2 separate regions of the Homo sapiens genome follow, and region 2 is linked to region 1. Evidence: fine-mapped QTL for protein levels in blood plasma. A gene starts in region 1. The other region holds a variant in brackets. All regions are shown on one strand. Distances are from middle to middle. Region 1 holds the start of F10 (coagulation factor X). Region 2 overlaps F10 (coagulation factor X).

What was found. PIP is the chance, under the fine-mapping model, that this variant and not a neighbour inherited with it causes the effect. The UK Biobank Pharma Proteomics Project read protein levels with antibody pairs (Olink). The fine-mapping took linkage between variants from a reference panel, not from the people measured, so its PIPs are less certain.
Region 2: its variant is fine-mapped to the plasma level of the F10 protein (UK Biobank, PIP above 0.99). The variant lies in the coding sequence of F10. If it changes the protein, the assay may bind it differently, which can mimic a change of level.

The regions. Positions count from the first base shown.
Region 1 is chr13:113,121,530-113,124,427 of GRCh38, forward strand. F10 (coagulation factor X) reads left to right here and starts at 1,270. Exons shown (of 8, transcript NM_000504.4): 1 at 1,270-1,396. The coding sequence starts at 1,327.
Region 2 is chr13:113,139,242-113,142,148 of GRCh38, forward strand. It overlaps F10 (coagulation factor X), which reads left to right. Exons shown (of 8, transcript NM_000504.4): 4 at 116-229; 5 at 1,678-1,809. It overlaps LOC124903215 (a long non-coding RNA gene), which reads right to left and starts at 116. Exons shown (of 2, transcript XR_007063879.1): 1 at 1-116. The variant G/A (reference allele first, on the strand shown) is at 1,731.

The DNA of each region.
Region 1 (2,898 bases):
GCATTGATGACAAAGACTGCGTGTCTGCCATGAGCATCCTGCTGTTGGTGCACACACCGCATTGGTCTCTCCATACAAACATGCCTAGAGGCGATGTCAGAGGGTGGAGACCAGGAGAGGCAGGAGTCAGACATCTGGTGCCACCAGGAAGGCCCTTCTCAGAGGACCAGGCTGTGCGTGGTGCCCGCCGTGGGAGGCCAGCCTGGCGTTGGCATCCAGCATCATCAGTTTGTGCAGTCGGGTGGGGCTCAGTGAGTGCCTCCTGTGTGCCAGGCACAATGACGCACAATGTGTGCACACCAGGCTCATGTGCAGGTGGCTGCGAGACAGGGCGACCCATCAAGGCAGATGCACCATGAGGCAGTGGCCAGTGCTGTGGGTGTTAGGGGCATTGCTCCCCGGCCACTACGGCATAGCAGGCAGTGATCGCCACACTGGCCAAGCTTTAGACCATTTATTCCAGAGACCCCAGAGGCAAAAAGCCCGGCTGCACCTCCCAGTGACTCCCACAGCCATTGAGCAGAGACACTCAGGACCTTGTGATGGGAGGTTTCTGCACTGGAGAACGAGCCCAGAAGCCCTCTCAGCCTCGGAACAGTGTGGCCAGTGGTGGGCAGGTCAGGAGGGGCTTCAGACACAGCCTGTCCCTCCAGATGGTCACGGGAAGGTCACTCCCCACAGAAGTACGTTTTGGGGCCATGCGGGCACAGAAGGTTTGGGGGTGGGTGGGGCAGGTGCCAGCCTGGCCTGTGGGAGGCCATGGTGCAGATGCCAAGCCCCCCCCGTGACATGAGACCACCTGATACCACCCAGAGAGTGGCTGTGAGCGGAAGGGCCCGCCCAGAAACAAGCAGGGCCTTGGGGCAGAAGTCCTGGGCTCAGATCCCACGCTCACTGCCAGCGGCCTCGGCTCAGGCTTCTGCGCTCTCTAAACTTAGTTTTCTCTTCTGGAAAAATGATGGGGAAAATGATATTTGTATGTGAGGACTGAGAGTTAAATGTAAACATCTGGAAACTACAAAATGAGCACGAAATGATGTTTTTATTCTTAGAACAGAAAGTCCCCACACCCGCGGCCCTGGTGACTGATGAGGATGAGGTTCTGCGGGGCCTCTCTGGCCGCCCAGCTCTGCCTGGGGAAGGTGGGGCCAGAGTGGATGTGTTCCCAGCGTGGTCACTCCCCTGCCTCGCCAGCAGGTCTCGGCTCCAATCAGGAGGCCTAAGCCAAGTGATAAGCAGCCAGACAACAGCCATCCCAGCTGGGGCGTGGACTTTGCTCCAGCAGCCTGTCCCAGTGAGGACAGGGACACAGTACTCGGCCACACCATGGGGCGCCCACTGCACCTCGTCCTGCTCAGTGCCTCCCTGGCTGGCCTCCTGCTGCTCGGGGAAAGTCGTAAGTGCCCCTCGCCCTTCAGACCCAAAAGCAGCGCCAGGGAGCAGGGAGGGGCGGCAGTTGGGGAAACCCTCTCATCTCTGCAGCCTGGACGGTGGGTGCCTTGAGTGCTGCCAGAGGCTGGGCTCGGATGGCTGGGCTTGGCCTTTCCAGCCAACGGCATCCTCAAGGCCAGCTGTGGCTCCCTGGGGCTGAGAGTCAGACGGGCGGATCAGAGGTCACAGAGACAAAAACACAAGGACAGAGTCAGAGAGAGAAAGGGAGAGGGAAGGAGAAACGGAGACACAGTGAGATGGGAGGCCAAGAGGCAGAGACAGAGGTAGAAAGACGGAGACAGAGAGAGAGGGAGGGGTTGGGGCAGGCAGAGACAGGACAGTTAGCCATCTGCCACCACAGGGAGGCACAGGACGAGGGGCACAGCAGAGGAGCTCCCAGGGAGGAGGAGGCTGAGCCGAGCCAGTGCCACCACTCTCGGACTGGCTCCGTCGGGGAAGGAGCTGCCTAATGCACAGCTGGACAGGTGGGGGCAGCAGGGCTGTCCAGGACCCCCGGGTCTGTCCAAAAGCAGAGGCCCAGACAGGACAGAAGCCAGGCAAGCCTGGGGACAGCGGAGGAAGAGGAGGCCCCTCTGGTGGGGACACGAGAGACAGGGACCCTAGACTTGTTTGCATCCTGGACAAAGTGGACAGGCAGGGGCACCAAGGGGACCCAGGCCTGGGAAGGGAATGTGTGAGGGAGAGACGGAGCAGGGGGAGACCCTCGTGGGGTGGAAAGGGGAGACCCCTGGGAAGGCTGAGTGGATCCTCAGTGCATCACTGACCTAAACGGCCCCTCCGCCTGGTGACTTGGAGCTCCAGTCACATCACACGGGGGTCTTCTCCATCCCACCCTCAACCCCCTGCCCTCCCCAGCCTCTGTCCCCTGAGCCACATCTTCCTGTCTCCCACGCGGAACGGGACTCCCGTCTTCATGGGGTACTGTGTGGCTCCAACTCGCCCAGCCTTCTTCCTCCCCCTCAGGCCACACTGCCCCCTGCAGGAGCCCACTGTGATGCTTGTGGTGGGATGAGATCAGCGTGGGTGGAACAAGGCCCTGGAAGGACCCATGCCATCATCATCGACAGCAAAGCTACTCTGCAAACAGACAGATGCTTCCGCGAATTGGTAGAAAATTCTGCAGCCGGAATGCTCTAGGATCCTGAGGCCCTAAGCCCGGCCCGGGGCTCCCGAGGCCCTAAGCCCGGCCCGGGACTCTGGAAGCTGCTCTGGCTTATTGGGAATGGAAGTTGGCAGGACTCCTCTTCCTGGGAAGAAGCAGAGGGTGGGGATGAGAAGACAGGCCAGGAGCCCACCCAGACCCACAGGAGGAAACTAGGGGAGTTATGCAGAGTCCTGGTGGAGCGCCAGCTTCCCTTCCTGCCAATGGGAAATGCAGGCGCCCACCTCGCGGACCTCTGGGTCCACAGGGTATTGGCACCCTTAGCTGTGTGATGCGGGCCTGGC
Region 2 (2,907 bases), 18 kb after region 1:
ACCGGAAGACTCTTCCAGTTATCTGAACGGCAGGGCCAAGGTTAGCACAGCAAAACTGTTTCCATGATGCCGGAAACAGCTTGCAGACTCCAGTTTCGAAATCCTCTCTTTGCAGATGGCGACCAGTGTGAGACCAGTCCTTGCCAGAACCAGGGCAAATGTAAAGACGGCCTCGGGGAATACACCTGCACCTGTTTAGAAGGATTCGAAGGCAAAAACTGTGAATTATGTAGGTTCCTCTGCTTGGTATACCTTCAGATCAGATGCCCCTGAAGAGTGGCAGGTGGGCGGGGGAAGAAGTGAAAACGCCTAATGAAACAATCTTAAGTCATTTCTGATTTACAAAGTCTGGGCTCTATTATACCTATTATACTGTGCCACTATAGCAATAGAAAAAAAAGCCCCAATATGTCCCCCAAACGATTCGGTTTGGGGGCATGATGAGAGAGACACAGTCACTTCTCTGCTCCTCCGAGAGAGACTGTAGAACATTGATGAAGCGTGTGATCCATTCATGTGTAAACAGGAGTGGACTCTCTGTTTTCCTTGGGGCCAAGTGCATTGCCCTGTTATTCCTGCTCCTTGTGACCCTGTGCAGTGATTCTAAATCACCTCTTATTTATGTGTATGGATGCAGGTGTCAATATTTGTGAATATTTGTGATTGGCCAATTATAAAAATTTGATACATTTAATTAGTTCTACGTGGAAAAATCACTAAGTGCTTTCTCTAATGTGGTGATTAAGTTTTAAATAAAAAGTTAGGCTACTGTTAGATCAATTTCCCTAAGGAAAAAGATTTGCATTTCTTTTAAAGTACTTAATTGATCATCTTTTTTTTTTTTTTTTTTGAGATGGAGTCTCGCTCTGTGGCCCAGGCTAGAGTGCAGTGGCACGATCTCAGCTCACCGCAAGCTCCGCCTGCCAGGTTCACGCCATTCTCCTGCCTCAGCCTCCCAAGTAGCTGGGACTATAGGCCCCGGCCACCAGTCCCGGCTAATTTTTTTTTTTTTTAATTTTTTAGTGGAGACGGGGTTTCACCGTGTTAGCCAGGATGGTCTCGATCTCCTGACCTGGTGATCCGCCCGCTTCGACCTCCCAAAGTGCTGGGATTACAGGCGTGAGGCACAGCGCCGGCCTAATTGATCATCTTTAGACTGTGTTCTTAGATTGGATTACTTTTGAGTTTTCCCTGATGAGAATATCAATTACGCATCATTCCATTCCAAGTCCGCAGTCGCCTCCCTGGAACACCATTTGGTAACTTATGAGGCATAACCCTGTTCAGGCTCCCAGGGCTATTATGCACATTTTCTAAAATTTCAGGCATGTTGATCTTTGCACTGTGATTACTTTTTCATCAAAAGCCACACAGAGGGATGTGGAGTGACCGTAATGTGAGTGCTGCTGGGGCAGGGGGTACCGGCCATCCCGGAGGTGTGAGGGGCAGGTACCTGGAGCCTGGCTTCTGGCTACACCGGGCACTGCACCATGAGCTCCCCGTGACCCGTGAGGTTGCCCTTCAAGGCAAGTGTACCTGTCGCCTGGCTCTGGCCCTTTGCTCAACCCAATGGCCGCTTTGTGGCTGACAGGCAAGTGGATGTAGCTGGCACCCTTGGGCCAGCCCAGCCTCCATTTCTCCAGCTGTCCCCAGAGCCAACGTGCCTCTCCTTTGCAGTCACACGGAAGCTCTGCAGCCTGGACAACGGGGACTGTGACCAGTTCTGCCAC[G/A]AGGAACAGAACTCTGTGGTGTGCTCCTGCGCCCGCGGGTACACCCTGGCTGACAACGGCAAGGCCTGCATTCCCACAGGTAGGAGGCACGTTGGGCCACAGCCACCCGCTGCCGCTGGGCCGGGCCAGGGAGGACAAGCCCGTGCCAGGGGGTGGGGACACAGGCATGTTCTGGGCGGGCCTGGCAGGTAACAGTGACACCAAGAGGACAGGACTGAGCCCTGGGCTCCGGGCCCAGGTGGTTCAAACATGAAGACCATGAGGTTTGGAAACAGACCCATTATTTCTGTAAGCCAGATCTGCTGTTTAACCTCAGCTTCCCCATCTGACAAATGGGACCAACACTATTGCCTGACTGCTTGGGTGATCCCTGGAGCACTTTGCATGATGCCTGGCCCACCGCAGGCCCTCAGTCTGCATTGGGACTGTGGGGGGATCCAGTGCAAGGGCTCAAAGCACCAGGGCAGGCAAAGGGCAGAGCTGGCCCGAGGAACTGGAGCTAAGGTGCGGGGCTGGGATAGGAGTCAGGGGACGCTCAGGCTCTGAGCTCCTTTTACCAGGACCAGTGTTCATTGAACGTAGTTTTTCTTTTCCTTGATGAATGTGGACAACAGGCGGCCAGAGGGCAGTGAGCACAGGACAGGCAGGGGACTGGGCAGGGTGGGGACGAGCCTCCCTGTCCTGACCCCGTGGGCATTGCCTACGCTGGGCTTGCCTGGCTGCCGGCACTTCCACACGGCCAGCACACATGAGGCCCTCGAAGGCGGGGCCTAGGCGTCACAGCTGCACCTTGCACAGCAACCCCACTCCCACTCATAGCTGGCCCGACCCGCAGCGTTGGCCTCACCCGGGGGCATATTCGAAGGGCAGAGTTCCAGGCCCGCCTTTTCAAGAGCCTGGTGACCCAGCTCACCTTCCGGCTTCAGGTGCGGCTCAGCCCCCAGACCGTGTTCTGCCCCCGGCTACCATGACTGTCCCCTCCAGACACAGGTTACTCCCGAGTGTTCTGTCACTCTTCCTTTCATATCCTTCTTACCGAAAACAATTTACTTCCAAAGATGAGTGATCACGAAAAGACCGGGTTCCATATGCATCCTTCAAGCGCTGCTTCAATTATGTGCCTGAAACATCTCAGCAAGTGAAAGACACTGTGGCTGACCTTGCTACTGGCAATGAC